2 separate regions of the Homo sapiens genome follow, and region 2 is linked to region 1. A link means that fine-mapping ties the variant in region 1 to the expression of a gene that starts in the linked region. Tissue or cell type: whole blood. Region 1 holds a variant in brackets; the other region holds the start of a gene. All regions are shown on one strand. Distances are from middle to middle.

What was found. PIP is the estimated chance that this variant, and not a neighbour inherited with it, causes the effect.
Region 2: TCF7L1 starts here. The variant in region 1 is fine-mapped to the expression of TCF7L1 in whole blood (TOPMed, PIP above 0.99).

The regions. Positions count from the first base shown.
Region 1 is chr2:85,303,239-85,311,321 of GRCh38, reverse strand. It overlaps TCF7L1 (transcription factor 7 like 1), which reads right to left. Exons shown (of 12, transcript NM_031283.3): 6 at 7,325-7,427; 7 at 6,984-7,067; 8 at 5,919-6,062; 9 at 4,957-5,116; 10 at 4,763-4,870; 11 at 3,605-3,680; 12 at 935-2,293. The coding sequence ends at 1,860. Among named protein-coding and RNA genes, the nearest start is that of TGOLN2, 21 kb to the left of the region's middle. RefSeq lists enhancers at 803-1,686, 4,609-5,109. The variant C/T (reference allele first, on the strand shown) is at 4,108.
Region 2 is chr2:85,129,471-85,137,556 of GRCh38, reverse strand. It overlaps TCF7L1 (transcription factor 7 like 1), which reads right to left and starts at 4,165. Exons shown (of 12, transcript NM_031283.3): 1 at 3,624-4,165; 2 at 3,478-3,541; 3 at 3,107-3,234. The coding sequence starts at 3,872. RefSeq lists enhancers at 1,832-2,405, 2,406-2,980, 3,556-4,130 and a silencer at 4,496-4,565.

The sequences.
Region 1 (8,083 bases):
TCTCAGCCTCCCAAGTAGCTGGGATTACAGGTGCGCACCATCATGCCTGGCTAATTTTTGTATTTTTAGTAGAGACGGGGTTTCGCCATGTTGGCCAGGCTGGTCTCGAACTCCTGACCTCAGGTGATCCACCCGCCTCGGCCTCCCAAAGTGCTAGGATTACAGGTGTGAGCCATCGCACCCAGCCTGAATTGTATACCTTTTTTGTTTGAGGCAGAGTCTTACTCTGTTGAGAAGGCTGGAATGCAGTGGCACAATCATAACTCACTGCAGTCTTGAGCTCCTGAGCTCAAGCAATCCTCCTGCCTCAGCCTCCTGAGAAGCTGGGACTACAGGCTTGTGTGCCACCATCCCCAGCTAGTTGCTTTTTTTTTTTTTTTTAAAGAGATCAGGTCTTGCTATGTTGCCCAGGCTAGTCCTGAACTCCTGGCCTCAAGTCATCTTCCTGCCTCAGCCTCTCAAAGCATTGGGATTATAGGCAAGAGCGGCTCTGCCCAGCTGAACTGTATACTTTAAATGGGTGAAGTGTAACTTTAAATGGCTGAAGTATATCTCCATAAAGCTGTTACAAAAAATTAATTGTGGTGCTAGATACTATGGAAAGTATCCAAAAGATGCTTCCTCACATCTTGGCAATTACGAGTCAAATGGGTGATAGAAGCATAAGCTGAATGTCATTCCAGGCGGCAAATTCATTTAAATCAGCTGTGAAAATGATTACCCCCTTTGCAGCTCAGTCATGGACACTGACTGGCCCATGCACATTTGAGACAGGAAGCTGGGTTCAGGTTTTCTAAGGGTGTCAGGCATGCCTAACATTCCCCTGTGGCAAGTGGCAATCTTCCTTTGCATATCTGCGAAAGTCTAACACAGGGTTTGGGAGTGAAACAAACAGGTGGTTTGATTCAACAAAAGCACTAAAGAAACACTCAGAAAAGGTCTTGCAACTGCAATTTTATTTTCTTTTGTGAAAATAAACAACTGGGAGTTTAAATTGCTCCAAAAACCATAAAAACAAAAAGAAATACACACAGAAGAAGCATGTGAGGTGATGGGGAAGGGAACAGGGTCTCTAGAACTTTGGCAGATTGTGCTGGCACGGACCCAGGTGACAGGAGCCAGACCATGGGGCCGGTCCCGCCTGCCACTCTGGGATTGTGAAGGGATGATCGCCACTGGCAAGGACGGGGAGGAACACAGACTTCTTCGCTGAGGAAGTGGCAGGCACCTTGAGTCCCTTTAAATGCGGGGGTTGGGAGGAAACCATTTCAGAGGACCGCTTTCTCCACTGAAAGCTGGGGCTGGCGAGTTCGGGCCCACTGAGGGAGGGGACGCTGGTGGCAGCAAATCAGGCCAAGATGTCTTCTCACATGGTGATGGCCTCACACTGGGCAGAGGACAGAGGACGAAGAAGAACCCACGGTATTGAGCAGACGATGAAAACTTGGGCTGGGTAACAGGAAATGTCACAATGGCAGAGCTGCAGATGGAGTCGGGGAAGCTGGGGCAGGCGGCAGGGGCGAGAAGAGACAGGAGACAGAAAGTGCAAGAGAGGTAAGAGAGAGAAGTGCCCTCTGCCCAGGTCCATCCACCACAGCACCTACAGGACGAATAGCACGCTACTTTTCAGTTCTCTTTCTTATAAAGATTTTTTTTTGTTGTTTTGTTTTGTTTTTTAAAAAAGCCTTAAGATCAGCTACTGGTTACATCTACAAACTGTAAAGTGCTGTTGTTACCAGCCACTTTACAGAACAGTCCAGAGTGGTCAAATATTGACCAATAAAGTCTCCTTTTTCTTTTTCTTCTGAATCATTACTACTCAATGAGTCATGTGACAGCCTGCAGGGGTCGGGGGGAGCTTAGTGGGCAGACTTGGTGACCAGGGAAAGAGGCTGGGCCTGTAGCACCGGGAGGGCCTGGTGGGCATGGAGCGTGGCGGGGAAGGACGGGGGAGAGGCCAGCAGAGCTGTGGGCATGGACCCAAGGGGGAGGGGCCGGGACAGGAGGGGAGGCTGGCTGCCCATCTGCCCAGAGGAGGAGGCTGCAGCCTTAGCCGACAGGAAGGCGGCAGAGTGGAGAGCCAGCTGGGCCCGGGTTTCTGGTTTGGTGGTGAGGGAGAGGGGCTGGGCTTGCTCCGAATGGGTGGCAGCAGGGGCAGCTGGTGAGGCCAAAGCTGCAGAGGGAGTGGCCGGGGAGTCCAGCATGCTCCCGTGGGAGGAGGCAGGGCTGTCACAGGGCTTCTCGGGGGGCAGGTACTGAACACATGGCTTCTTGCTCTTGGAGGCCAGGGCACCTAGGGGGAAAATACAAGAAAGAGTGAGCAGCTATAGCTCTGTGAGAGGAGGAGGCTGAGGAACAGCCCTGGCGATACATGTGCTTTGGAGACACAGGGATGATTTTGGCGAGGACCTGACATTACTTCCAAGGCTTTCAAGACTAGGAAACTGCATTCACAAATACCCAGAGCACAGAGAAGAGGCAACGCCCAAACTGATGAAGATCCACCCAGCATCAGATCGGAGAGAAGACGGCTCAGTGTCTCACAGGACCACCCTCCTTTCCTAAAGCTGGTAACTTTTGGGATGAATCTCCAGTTTGCTTTGAAATCTTTGGTTTATGGTATTAATACAGTCAGAGAGAGTGCATGCCTGCTGAACAGCGTGCCAGACAGCGGGTTCTGTAGCAGGTACGGGTTCCACTCATGTGCGCTCCTATGTATAATGGAAGGAAGGAAGGAAGGGAGGAGGGGAGGCAAGGAAATAGGGAGGGAGGGAAGGAGAAAGGGAGGGCGGAAGGAGAAAGCGAGGGAAGAAGAAAGGGAGGGGGGGAAGGGAGGGAAGGAGGGGGAGAGGGAGGGAAAGAGAGGGAGGGAAAGAGAAAGGGAGGGAGAAAAGGAGGGAGGGAAGGGGAAAGGGAGGGAAGGAGAATGGGAGGGAAGGTGAAAGGGAGGGAGGAAGAAAGGGAGGGAGGGAGGAATGAAGAAGAGAGATTGAAAGCACTTTACATCGTGCAAGCAGCGATACACTTGTCCTGGAGTGAGCATGAGATGGGGGGCGTGACCTAAATATTAATAATAATCGTCACAGTGTGAGCATCTTTCTGTGCTAGGCATGATTCTGGTAATATAGAGATTTTATACATGGTTTTGACACAAAGTGCCTCCTAAACCCAAGCAAACTAATTTTTTCTGGTGTTCAACCAAAGAAACATCCAAGGAAACCCGGGCTCCCCTGGATCCACTGACAGGTGGGATGTCAGGGGCTCATGTGCTGCCTTCCTAAGGGTATTTCAAAGACAATTTCAACCTCATTCCATTAACCCTCAGGTAGGATGATTCACTTTTCAATGGAATTAGATTGTCTAGGCTTTGAAGTGACAAAGTCCTGGGATCAAATCCTACCACCACCACTGAAGCAGAGTGCCTGGGAAAATGCCTTCACATCTCAGAGCCTCTTAAGTGGCCACCTCGAGAAAGGGGTAATAATACCCGCCCGCGAATACCGAGGCAGAAGCCCTGACCCATCAGGGAGCTAGAGACAGCATGGGCAGGTGTGGCTGTGACAAAAGGAAAAGCAGGAGAAGAGGCCAGTGCCCCGAGACGCACCCTCTGCCTCCTGGACTTGCTGCTGTGACTGTGTCTGGGACAGCTGCTTTTCTCTCTTCCTCTTCTTTTTCTTACCCTGGAAAATACAGCCAAAGGAAGAGGTAAGCTGGGAGAGAAGAATGCTGGCTTCTCAGGGGCTCCCAGATCAGAGAGAAGACAGGACGTTGCCCTTTACTGCTCTCGATCCCTCAGGGAGAGTGTGGAGAGATAATTCAGATCACAGCCGTGGGAGCCCGTGAGGAGGCAGAGGGAGCCCTTCCTCCCCTACAAACGCGTTTCCCCTCCAGGTCGGGTGTCCAGGCCTTCTTGGAAGGCCTCCTCCCTCCACTGCCCTTCAGACTCTGTTTTTCTGTTTCTCTCCCTAGAACAGTGCTTCTAGATCTTTTCTGAGGGGTCCCAGGTCCCTTTGAAAGTTTGATGCAACTGTGGGTCCTCTTACCAGAAAAAAAGCAAAGAAGAACACGCATGCGAAAATTGGCTTGGTTTCCGGGAGCTTAGAGACA[C/T]GCCCCCTGAGGCTCACACACTGGTCTTTGAGCCCTGGGTTAGGAGTGGCTGGAGACAACTCTTCCTACCACAGCTAACCCCGTGCCCTGTGTTATGAAATCGAGGGCAGAGTCCAGTTCAAAGGGAAATGCATCAACTGAAGTCCGTCCTCAGGACTTGTTGACCTCCTGAGAATTAAAACACCTTCCTTATTTCTAGAGAAGTATGGGCTTCTCCCTGATCTTAAGAGTCCTCTATAAATGCAGTCGCTGGCCGGGCGCGGTGGCTCACGCCTGTAATCCCAGCGCTTTGGGAGGCCGAGGTGGGCGGATCACGAGGTCAGGAGCTCGAGACCATCCTGGTTAACACAGTGAAACCCCGTCTCTACTAAAAATACAAAAAATTAGCCGGGTGTGGTGGCAGGTGCCTGTAGTCCCAGCTACTCGGGAGGCTGAGACAGGAGAATGGTGTGAACCGGGGAGGCGGAGCTTGCAGTGAGCCGAGATCGCGCCACTGCATGCACTCCAGCCTGGGTGACAGGGTGAGCCTCTGTCTCAAAAAATAAAAGAAAATAAAATAAATAAAAATAAATGCAGTTGCTTTCCTTCACCCTTCCTCCTCTTGCAGAGGCTGTTCCTGGGGTCTGAGCGTCCTCTGCCCAGAGTGTGCACTTACATAGTTGTCCCGGGCTGACCAGGTTGGGTAGAGCTGCGAGTGAAGCTGCCGCTCCTTCCGGGCCAGCTCGTAGTACTTGGCCTGTTCTTCTCGAGACAGGTTGTGCCACTGGGGGAGAGAGGGTCAGAGACCACACGGAGCCATCAATGCAGGGACGCTGCCTCCCTGGCCTGGAGGGAGAGGGCAGGTCTTACCTTTCTTCCAAGGATCTGGTTAATGGCTGCACTTTCCTTCAGGGTGCACTCAGCCACCACCTTGGCCCTCATCTCCTTCATATACAACATGAAGGCATTCAGAGGCTTCTTCACGTGGGGCTTCTTTTCCTCCTCCTTTTTCACGGTGACTGGTGATTTCCTGGGAAGGCACGTGGTTGTAGGTTAGCATGTCAGGTGTCACACAACTCATCAATCCCCACCTGTCACTGAAACACCGCTGATTGTCTCTGGGGAGGGGCGCGGGCTGCCTGGATGCTAATTCAAGTGGCCCCATGGCTGCACTCAACACCTGAGTACCTTCCTCCCGTAGTTTCCCACCTTTGAACGATCTCCACGCCAGATTCTTTGAAAATCTACTCTCCAATTTCCTGACAGAGGAACAGAGCATGGTGGGGTTGCTGAGATGAGCTCTCACTGGAGCTGGCAGGTGCTGGCGGCGGTGACAGGACACAGTGTGGGGCACTCTGGGCAGAACCAAGTTGGGAGGGGGTTCTCTTGGGATCTCCAGGGAGCACTGACTTTGGCTTCCTGCCATCTTTATGGTACACGGGCAAGGTAAGGACCCTGGTGCTCATCTCAGCTCGGCCACCAGCCCACCACAAGTCCTTAAGAAAACACTGTCTCCTTTCTGGGCCTCACCTTTTCATATATCTTACGGTGGGGTGTTAAAAGCTTTCTCAGGTTCTCTTTCAGCCTCTGAGACCTGACAGTAAAACTTTCCTTAATAAGAGAGAAGATGCACCATGTCCCTGAAAGGACAGGGACCCAGAAGGTCAGAGGGAGTAAGTCCCGAGGAAGAGGGAGGGCCTGGCTGGGGAGGCTGTGATGCCTGCTGAGTGACACCAAGAGAGAAGAGTACATGACATTTGCTGCTCAGAGTGTGGCCACCCCTCCCCACAGCCTGCACCCTCCCACCTGAATCCAGGCTGCCGCTTACTTACACGCTCACTGCAGGGCTCAGGCTGGGGGGTGCCGGTTCCTGCTTGACGATGGGGGAGACGATGGCAGGGTGGGGGATCCCTGAGGTGGGCAGGCCAGGGTGGGCAGGAGCCACCATGTGAGGAGAGAACCGACTGGAGACCAGGCTGTGCACCGGATAGAAACAAATGGCAACAGAGGGGTTCAGGCTGGATACCTGCCACCCAGCAGAGGACACGGTGGCTCTCTGCCTTAAGGGCACAGGCATGTCCGTGGGGCAGAGTCTCAGGACTAGAAGGCTATTTGTCGTCTTCTAGAAAACCAGGTTTGGGAGATGCTTAATGGCTCTTCCTTCTCCCCACCAACACCCAGGCTGCCCATCTGGTGCTGGAAGCAGGTGGGATGAAACACACAAAAGGGGAGGAGGGTCAGAGGCCCGGGCATACTGGGGAAAAGAAGGGCTTAGGCTGTGGGCAGCTTTCCTCTGTCCTCAGAGGTTCCACTGTCAGGTAGAGCTGGTCCCTGAGACAGAAATCCCCTTTCACCGTCTCCTCTCCTGACATCATTTCAGGAAAAATTCATCTTCTCCCAGTCCCTAGCTTCAGTGTGATATACAGACAGTCCGTGACTTAGGATATTTTGACTTTACGATGGTGCAAAAACGATATTAATTCAGTACTCTCCTTGACCTAGATGGGGTTATGTCTGGATAAAACCATCATATGTTGCAAATATTCTAAGGGGAAAGTTGTGTTTTCAATGTACGACGGGTTTATCAGGACGCGGCTCCATCCTAAGTCGGGGAGCATCTGTCCTCAAAATGCTTCAGTGCCAGAGCCCATGGCAGGAGGCAGAGTGCTAGGGCTTTGCAATCCTTCTGTTGGAGAGATGGGGACAGTGATCCTGTGGTCTCCATTCTGACCTGGGGGTGGGGAGCGCGGGACGTGAGAAGATGCTTGATCAAAGAGAGGTGGGGGGAGGGTGAGCCCTGTGCCTGCTCATTAACTGGCAAGAAAAAGCTGTTTCGTGGTCAGAAATGGCGTGGTTGCTAAGACAAACATGCGGACAGCCCCAGCCCCGGGACTCACCTGGACATCGAGGCGTTCATGGCGAGGGCGGGGTAAGGGTGCCGGAAGCCACCGGGAGGAAGGGAGTACATGGGCTGGCCTTGCCTGTGAGGGGGAGGAAATCTGGTCAGCATATTGGGAAAGCTCAGGGCAGAGGAAGAGAGGCACTTGGGAAGAAGGGATGAGAAATATGGGAAGGAAGCGGGAAGGTAATGCTGGGAGCACGCTGCCTGGGCGGGGGCAGGGAGGCCTAGTCCTGGGCTTGCCTCTGAGGGGGCTCCACTGTGCAGGGCGCGCAGGGCACAGAGGCAGAGCTCAGCGCAAGGAGGGAGCAGGGGGAAGAGAGGCTGTGGGTTCCTTACTGTGGGACGAGCCAGCCGAGGGGGTGGGGGATTTGTCCGACAGCTCCGGGAGAGAGTGGGTAATACGGTGACAGCTCGGATGGGTGAGGGGGCCGGGGGATTCCTGCTTCCAAAGAGAGATATGTCAGACTGTTCCCTCGCCCTGCCAGAGCACCTTAACGAACATCAAATGGGAGCATCCTGCCCTATGTCCCTGGTGCTCTGGAGCCTAGCAGGTGCTTGTGTCATTGTCCTTGCCCTCTGTCAACTCCCTAGCAGCTCTCACCAGTCAGTCAAGGACATATTCAGGGGAGGCAGGACTAATGCACCCCCTCTCTAGCTGCACGGATTCTATCTCTGTGAAGAGTATCTTCCAGCTGGCTGTGATACAGAAGCCAGCGTCCTGGAAGAGAGGGACAGGACCCACAAGACCAATGACAAGAGTCACTGGTGAACCAAGTCTCTAGAAAGCCCGCCTCATTCATGGAGAAATAAACTTTGGATTCCTCCTCCACATGTGTCTTCCTCATTATCTGTAACTTGTAGTGACTGTTATTTCTCCAAAGAGGGGCTCCAAAAATGCTTTGCCTTCCCCTGGCAACTCTGTGTGAATGCTATAAAGACAGTGGCTCCCTGGAATGGACAGGTCTGGTGGGCAAGTTAAAAAAAAAAAAAAGAAAAAAAAGCCAGTTCAGGTTGGGCATGGTGGCACACCGGTAATCCCGGCACTTAGGTGAGTTGACTGCTTGAGTCCAGGAGTTTGAGACCAGCCTGGGCAAC
Region 2 (8,086 bases), 170 kb after region 1:
ACCGTGAAGCCTTTTCAGAAATGAATGTATAATTTTGAGGTGATTATTTGAAAAATGGTTTGTGGCAGTTATTCCTCTCTTCACAGGGTCCCAGGGCCTCCAGACAAGAAGCAATTGCAGCTCACAGAGACTTGGCCCACATCCCATGCTGAGGGGACCTCTTCTCTAAAGAGCCTCAGGAAAAAGCCACTTCCCAGCATCCCAGCCAAACCAGAGTGGAGGGCAAGGGTGATGGCTCATGGGGAGAGATGGCCAGACTGTAGGATGGGCCAGCCCCCAGTGGTCTCAGCAGGAATTATGCCAGTGGGTGAGGCTGCTGAAGCCTCCTGCCTGCTATTCCTAGGGTTCATTAACACCCTGAAAACAATCCAGACAATTCCCACTTCTGCATCTGGCTTGGTATTTCCAGAGGAAGTGTTAGAGCAGCAGATAACTGGGGTCACCTAATTTTATACTACCTCTAGGCCTTAGAGCAGCAAAGCCTAAAGTGGTGCAGTTTAGAGGCCAAACAATAAAAAAGACCTAAGATGTCAGAGAGATCGGATCATATATCCCAGGCACTTTCCTCCCTCCTCCCTCCCCACTCGTATCTATCCACATTCATTTTACCAGGCTGGGAAACCAACAGAGGGCCACTTTGTCTGTACCTACCATTTGCCTACAGTGACAATTATCTTAATTATATTAATAGAATCGTTCAGCAGAAAACCATCATCTCCACCCTATAGTCCAGACAACCAAGTGCTTAAGTGTTTCCTCACTTGCTTTACTTACTGGCAGCAAACGAACAGGGTCAAATTAGGTTTAACTGTGCTGACCTAAGGGCAGGACACTTCCCCAGTATATCCGTGAACTAACACAGCGAAAGGCACACAGAGACACAGAAACACTGGGAACTGAACTAACTTCTGTAAGGGCAAGTCACCAGGGAGACAAGATGTAGGTATGGGGGTGGGATGGGACATACTAAGTCCCCAAGAAAGTACATGTCCTAGGAGGCTTGAAAGGAGGCTGGTGCCTGGGCCAGGGCAGGGAACAACTGCAGAGATGAACAAGGACAGTCAGAGAGGCATGCAGAGACGAAAGGTTGGCTGCCTCAAGGAGGGGCTCCAAAATCCCACACGGGCCTGGATTTAGTAATCAGGAATCTCCAGGATCAGCAAGAATCAGCCTTTGGAAGTTCTTAGGCGAAAGAACACATAATGTGATAGAAGGAAGGAAGGAGGGGACACTAACAAAAATCTGTCTCACTTGGACTGTCAGAGAGAGCAGACAGCAGAGCCTGGATGAATCAAAATGCCCTAAAGAGAAATGGGTGCATGGAGAAATAGCCTTGAGGGAGCCATAGTCATATTTGATGGTGAAATAGTCATTTCTGGTGACTTTAACTGCATCAGGACTTGGCTGAGGGCTGATGCACAGATGCTAGTGCCTCCCAGACCCCTCTCTCTAGATATCCTAATAGTAAATGGAAACCTGAGACTTTAGCGGCATTAACTCTCCCCCATACGCAAAGTTACACGAATCCCAACAAAACTTGCAGAACTAAGCTACATGTGTGGGCACTGGTGGGAATCACTGAAAACCTAAATAAGACCGCAGCAGCTCGTTGATCCCCCCCCCCCTTTGATTGGCACGCACCTCTTTTCTTTTAATGAGAAAAAGCAACAGCCATAGACCCACATCCAGTTTTCACTGCAAAACTGACACTTACATTCAGGACTTCCTGGGGTGCTCCAGGCCAGCAGGGCCAAAGCTGCAAGACCTCCCTCCCTCTCGGGGCAAAACTGTGAGGTCTGTGTAGTCCCACTCCCCATTCCCCTCTCTCTCAGTCAGAGTCTCTTCCACCGCCCCCCGTCAATCCCCCTCCAACCCATCTGGTGATGGTAGCGCCCCCGCTGAACCAAATGTGGAGGACTTGGCTCTCCACCGACCGCTGTACAATGACAGCAGGAATGGCCATTCAGCACCTAGCCTTTCTCTAGCACCCTTTAATTATCGTCGTTATTTTAGGGCAGTCTTAGCATAAAGTGTGTTGCTGGGACCCTGCTCCTAAGAGGCTAACACTCCCTGCCCCCTTACCCACCGTCGACAGCGAAGTGGCAGGCAATGGGAATCTGGGCGGGAAGCAAAGAACTACTACGATTCACATCGCGCCCAAGCAGCAGCACGCGGGAACCTGGCACACAGTAGGTAGGCGTTCACCCAACATCTGTCATCGGACCCAGCACCTGGGCAGGGAGCCTAGGGGTGGAGTGGCGGCTTGGGGGACACAAAGGCCTCGCCAGCCCCCAGCTGCGCCCCTCGCAACGCGGGGGGCGGGAGTTTAGAGCCAGAGAGAGGGGGCGAAGGAATCCGCCCTCATTTGCACGTCGTCTGGGGCCCGGTCAATTTGCTTAATCACCGCTCTAAATGCCAGCGGGCAGCACACAATACGCGCCCATTAACAGGTTTAAAGTGTCGCAGCGCTCGCTTTAAATGAGAAAAGCAGGCGACAAAAGGGGGAAAAAGCCAAGTTCCTCAACTTGAAGAATGCCTTGGGTCGCCTCGAAATCATCTACGCGAGTTTAAAATTCGGAGCTAGCTCCGCAGAAAAGCTGAGGCCCCGGTGCGAGGGCTGGGGGTGGGAACGGGGGCTGTGAATAACCCGCCACGAAAACTGGGTTTCTTAGGAACCAGCCTGCAGCCGCCCAGTGAACCCGGAGTCGGAGGACAACGTCGCCAACCCAGCTCCCTAGGCCCCTTGCCCCACTGCCAGAGAAAGCTGACCGATTTCCAAGAAGGAAAGCGAGACCCCCCCAAAGCGGGCACAAATCCAAGTTTCCTTCGGTGCAGGCGAAGAATTCTGGAGGCCAAGGAAGATCCCAGAGGTGGACTCCAAAACCTCAACCCGCAAGAGGGGAAAAGTTAAAGTAACTTTACTTTCATCCAGGCACTGGCCAGCGCAGCCTCGCGCTCGGCCGCCAGAGAGTAGTTCAACTCCGCAAACAAGTTCTGCTTGGGATCGGCGCAGAAGGCCCCATCCCCCACTCCATGGCCAAGCCCGGGGGCGCATCCTGCGGGCCGCGGCCTCCCACCCTCCCCGGCGCGCCCGACGGGCACTCACGGTGCGCGCTCCTCCGGGAGACAGGGGTCCGTTGGAGAGGTACGGGCTGCTCAGGTCCGGGATCATCAGGAAGGGGTACCCAGGGTACGGGGGTCCTTTAAAGAACGCGCTGTCCTGAGGCCTTCTCACTGCGAACAAGACCAAGGCGAGGTGAGGCCCAGGCCCCCGGGACTGACAGCGCCGCGGCAGGGGGCTCGAGGCGGGAGCTGGGGACCCCAGCGCCCCCCACGCGCGCCCCACGGGGGCTGCCGCCAATAAAGGCGGAGGGCAAGGGTGCGTCCACCCAAGCAAGGGGGACGGTGGGCCGCCCGGGCTGAGCAGCGGAGCGCAGCGGGAATCGAGAGTGGGGGGCTGTCCCAGCGGGCACATACCTTCGGCGAAATAGTCCCGCGGCTTCTGGAAAGTGTCCCGGACGGGCTGCGGGCGCCTCTCCGCCTGCGGAGGAGACACAAAGGCAAGAGCGGGTGAGCGGACGCAGGGCCGGGATCCCCCGGGGGTGGCCGCGGTGCTTCCTTACCTCCGAGTCCGAGCTGCTGCTCTGGTTCTCCGACTCGTTGACCAGGGACGACTTGACCTCGTCTAGGTCCCGCTGCGCCGAGGCGCTATCGCTGCTCGGCTCCTGCTCCTCGCCCCCCTCGTCCTGGAAGGGGATCAGCTCGTCGTTCGCCCCGAGGTCGTCCCCTCCGCCGGCCGCCCCGGCGCTGGAGCCGCCGCCTCCCCCGCTGCCGCCGCCGCCGCCGCCGCCCCCGCCGCCGAGCTGGGGCATGGTGGGGCCGCGGGCCGGGGCCGCCGCTCTCGGAGCCCCTAGCCGCCCGCGCCCTGCCCGGCCCGGCCCGGCGCCCCTCCCGCCCGCTTGCGGGCCCGCTGCGCTAGCCGCCGCAACAAAGTTTGACAGGGCGTGGCCCCGCGGGAAGCGGGCCCGGCGCTGCCCGGCCGGGGCGCAGGCGGCTCGGCTCGGGCCCCTCCGGCAGCGCCGAGCCTAGGGCTCCCCAACTCGCCACCGCCGCCGCCTGCTCCGCCGGGGCGTCCCAGCCCCTGGCCCGCCGGGGAGGGGCGAGCGGGGAGGGAGGGAGGAGGGACCGCCGGGCTGGGCAGGGGGGCCGGAGGGAGGAGCCCCGGCTGCAAGCTGACACCCGCGCGCCTCGCGGAACCCGGAGAGCTGCGGTGCGCGCGCACACACACACATACACACGCACTCACACTCACACGTTCACACTCGCATCTTCCAGGGGCTGCGTCTCCCTGCAACGTGCACCGCCCCCAACCCCCTCCTGCGCCTCACACTGCACCCTCGGCGGCCCTCCCCACGGCCTCCCTGGAGTCCTGGAAGTCTTGCGCCCACCCCTCCGCATCCCCTAACTTTCTCCCAAAGAACCTCCAGAACTCCGCGCAGGTTCCCACCCCCTCCCACCGTATCGGCGCGCGGGCGGGCGGCACTGCCCCCTGCGGGAAAGCCTCGGACGCACATACTGGCCGCGGGGCCCTCCCCCTGCCTAGAGTCCCTCCGAGTGCGCGAGCTGATGCACGGACTAGGACACTGGGGACATCTATGGAACCCCGGAAAATGCCCGGCGGCTTTCCGCGCCTTTTTCCTGTGGGGTTCCAACGCGACCCCCGGCCCAGGTTTTCAACCTTGTACAGATATACAGATTTCCCTGCTGAAATCTTGAAGATCACCTTTTCTTCATTGTTTGGGACTAGGTCCTAAATCGAAAAATCGCGGTCTTGGGTTCCAAAAGAATTTGGATTTGGTTCATTGAGAGGGAAAATTGCCTGTCCAGTGATCTCCGAAGCCATTCACAAAGCTGCGTGAGTAGCCAGTGAACACGAGAAAAATGCTCAACCAGCCTCATACCTAAGTAATGCCTGTGGTGCGAGCGCCACGGCCCGCGCCTGGAGTTCCATCTACTCCCGAGGCCTAGGCAGGAGGATCGCTGGAGCCCAGGAGTTTGAGACCAGCCTGGGCAACATAGCAAGACCTTGTCTCCAAAAAAAAAATTTTTTTAATAAAGAAATGCCTGTTACAATGACATTAAGATGTCGTTTCTCTCCAACCTGTGCGGGAAAGTTTGAGGAAAATGAATATCTTGTGTTATCCTCCGTGGGGAACTATTAGAGCATAAACTTTGAAAACAGCTTGGAAGGCAGTATGGAACTATGTAAAACTATTTTCAGCCCAACTGGCAGAAGAGTTTCTACAGAGGTGCCCGCACATATGGGCAAAGCCACATATGCTAGGTTCAAAGCATCAGAGAGCTTGGTGACATGCATTCTTCATCTTTCTTTACAGTGACAGTCCATGCAGCTGGCCAGTTCTATGCAGTGTCCCCGCCCCTCCCCCCACCCATACACACACACACACACACACACACACACACACACACACACACACACACAGGCACATGGACCAAGATTGATTTTGGAGGAACATCTTTAAATGAAACACTATATATGACACTCACTATTTTATTTTTGTTTTTAAAAAAATTATACACATTTATTTCTGCGTAGAAAAAAATCTGAGAAGATGCAAATTATTATCAATGACTATTTCTGGGAAAGGATAAGTGAAAGGAGATAGTTTTCTGGTTTCTATGAACTTTATAACAAGCAGATATGCCTTTTCTAATTTTTTACACAATACATGAGTACAGTCTCATAAAGCGTTTTCAAATAACAGATGTATCTTGAGCAGTATCGAGTAACAAGTAAAAGTTCCTCTTTCCCCCTCAGGACACAGGACCCTTCTAATTAACCACTTTCAGTTAACTGCCTCTGGTTAACCACTGTCACTAGTTTGGTATATATCCTTCCAGACACTTTCCTAGGCAGTTATGAACATATGTAAACGTATTTACAGATATTCTGATGTACATACATAGAATCATACTCTTTGTATTATTGTGTGTTATTTTATTTTTATAAGATTTAAAAGTCAGACGATTTTTCATGTTTATGGTCCATAAATATATGAAAAACCTATTGTACTAGTTTTCTGCTGCTACTGTCACAAATCACGAAAACTTGGTGGCTTAAAACAACAGAAGTTTATCCTCTCATAGTTGTGGAAGACAGAAGTCCACTGTCAGTTTCACTGAGTAGAAATGGAGGTGTTGACGGGGCCATGCTCCCTCTGGAGGCTCCGAAAAGAATCTACCCTTGTCTCTTGCAGCTTCTGGGGGCTTGTGACCACATCACTCCCACCCTTGCGTCTGTAATCACATTGCCTTCTCCTTTTTTTGTCTGTGACAAATTTTCCTCTGCCCCCTTCTTGTAAGAAACCATACTTGTGGCCGGGCACAGTGGCTCACGCCTGTAATCCCAGCTCTTTGGGAAACCAAGGCAGGTGGATCACGAGGTCAGGAGTTCCAGACCAGCCTGGCCAACATGGTGAAACCCTGTCTCTACCAAAAATACAAAAAATTGGCCAGGTGTGGTGGCAGGCGCCTGTAATCCCCGCTACTTGGGAGGCTGAGGCAGGAGAATCGCTTGAATTTGGAGGGAGGAGGTTGCAGTGAGCTGAGATGGCACCACTGCACTCCGGCCTTGGCGACAGAGTGAGACTCTGTCTCAAAAAAAAAAAAAAAAAAAAAAAAGTGATACTTGTGATAGCATTTAAGGACCACCTGGATAACCTGTCCATGTCAAAATCCTTAACTTCATATCTGCAAAGACCTCTTTTCCTTAAACATTCACAGTTTCCAGGGATTAGGTCATAGATGCAGCTTTGGGAGTAAGCCATTATCAGCCTGCCACACCTATAAACCAGAAATGCAAACGGAAACAGCATTGAGATAACCAGTTTTCATCTGTCAGATTGGCAAAGGAAGAAAAGAATGGTAACACCCAGCATTGGCCCCTATACTAAGAAGCACATAGATGCTGGGCCATTGTGTAACAGTTCTAAAGAGAAGTTTGGTAATACCTGTGAAATACCTTTAAAAGTGTGAACCCTTTGACTTATCCACGTACTTCTAGGATTTTATCTGAAGGAAACAACTAGGTACAAAAATAAACCTGTAGAAGTGTGTTCATCACAGTGAAAAAATCTAGAAACAATTTCAATGTCCCCTATAGGGAATTATTAAGTTAAATCATGGTGCATTCATCTAATGGAATGTTATGACATTGTGGAGATATATTTGTCAATATAGAAGGAGGCTCATAATGGTAAGCAAAAGTAGCAAATTAAAATTAACATGTAGACTTCCACTTCCCATTCTAATGGGGTATTGATGTCAGATTGACTCCTTCATCAAGAACAACTAACTATAAACTGGATAAAATACCAAAATAAAACAACAAAACCCAGCTGAGTTGAAGGCATCACTGTCAACCAAGTCAGCCAGGACGTGAGGAGTCAAAATACCAGAAGGGAAATTCATTCAAGCGAGTTTGTATTCACTGCTGTTTCATCCCCTCAGAGAATTTGGTGATTTGTAGCACCAGGCATAGAGGCCAAACCAAAAACAACCATCTAGAGCAGCATACTACAGCTTGCTGCCTGTTTTTGAATGGTCTCAGCTAAGACTTTTTTTTTTTACTTTTTTTTTTTTTTTTTTGAGACGGAGTTTCACTCTTGTTGCCCAGACTGGAGTGCAATGGTGCCATCTCGGCTCACTGCAACCTCCACCTCCCGAGTTCAAGCAATTTTCCTGCTTCAGCCTCCTGAGTAGCTGGGAATGTAGGCATGCACCACCACGCCCGGCTAATTTTGTATTTTTAGTAGAGACGGGGTTTCTCCATGTTGACCAGGCTGGTCTCGAATTCCTGACCTCAGGTGATCCGCCCAAGTGCTGGTTTTACAGGTGTGAGCCACGTCGCCCGGCCGCTTTTTTTACATTTTTAAGTGGTTGAAAAAGATCATAAGGGCCAGGCGCAGTGGCTCACGGCTGTAATCCCAGCACTTTGGGAGGCCGAGGCGGGTGGATCACCTGAGGTCAGAAATTCAAGACCATCCTGGTCAACACGGTGAAACCC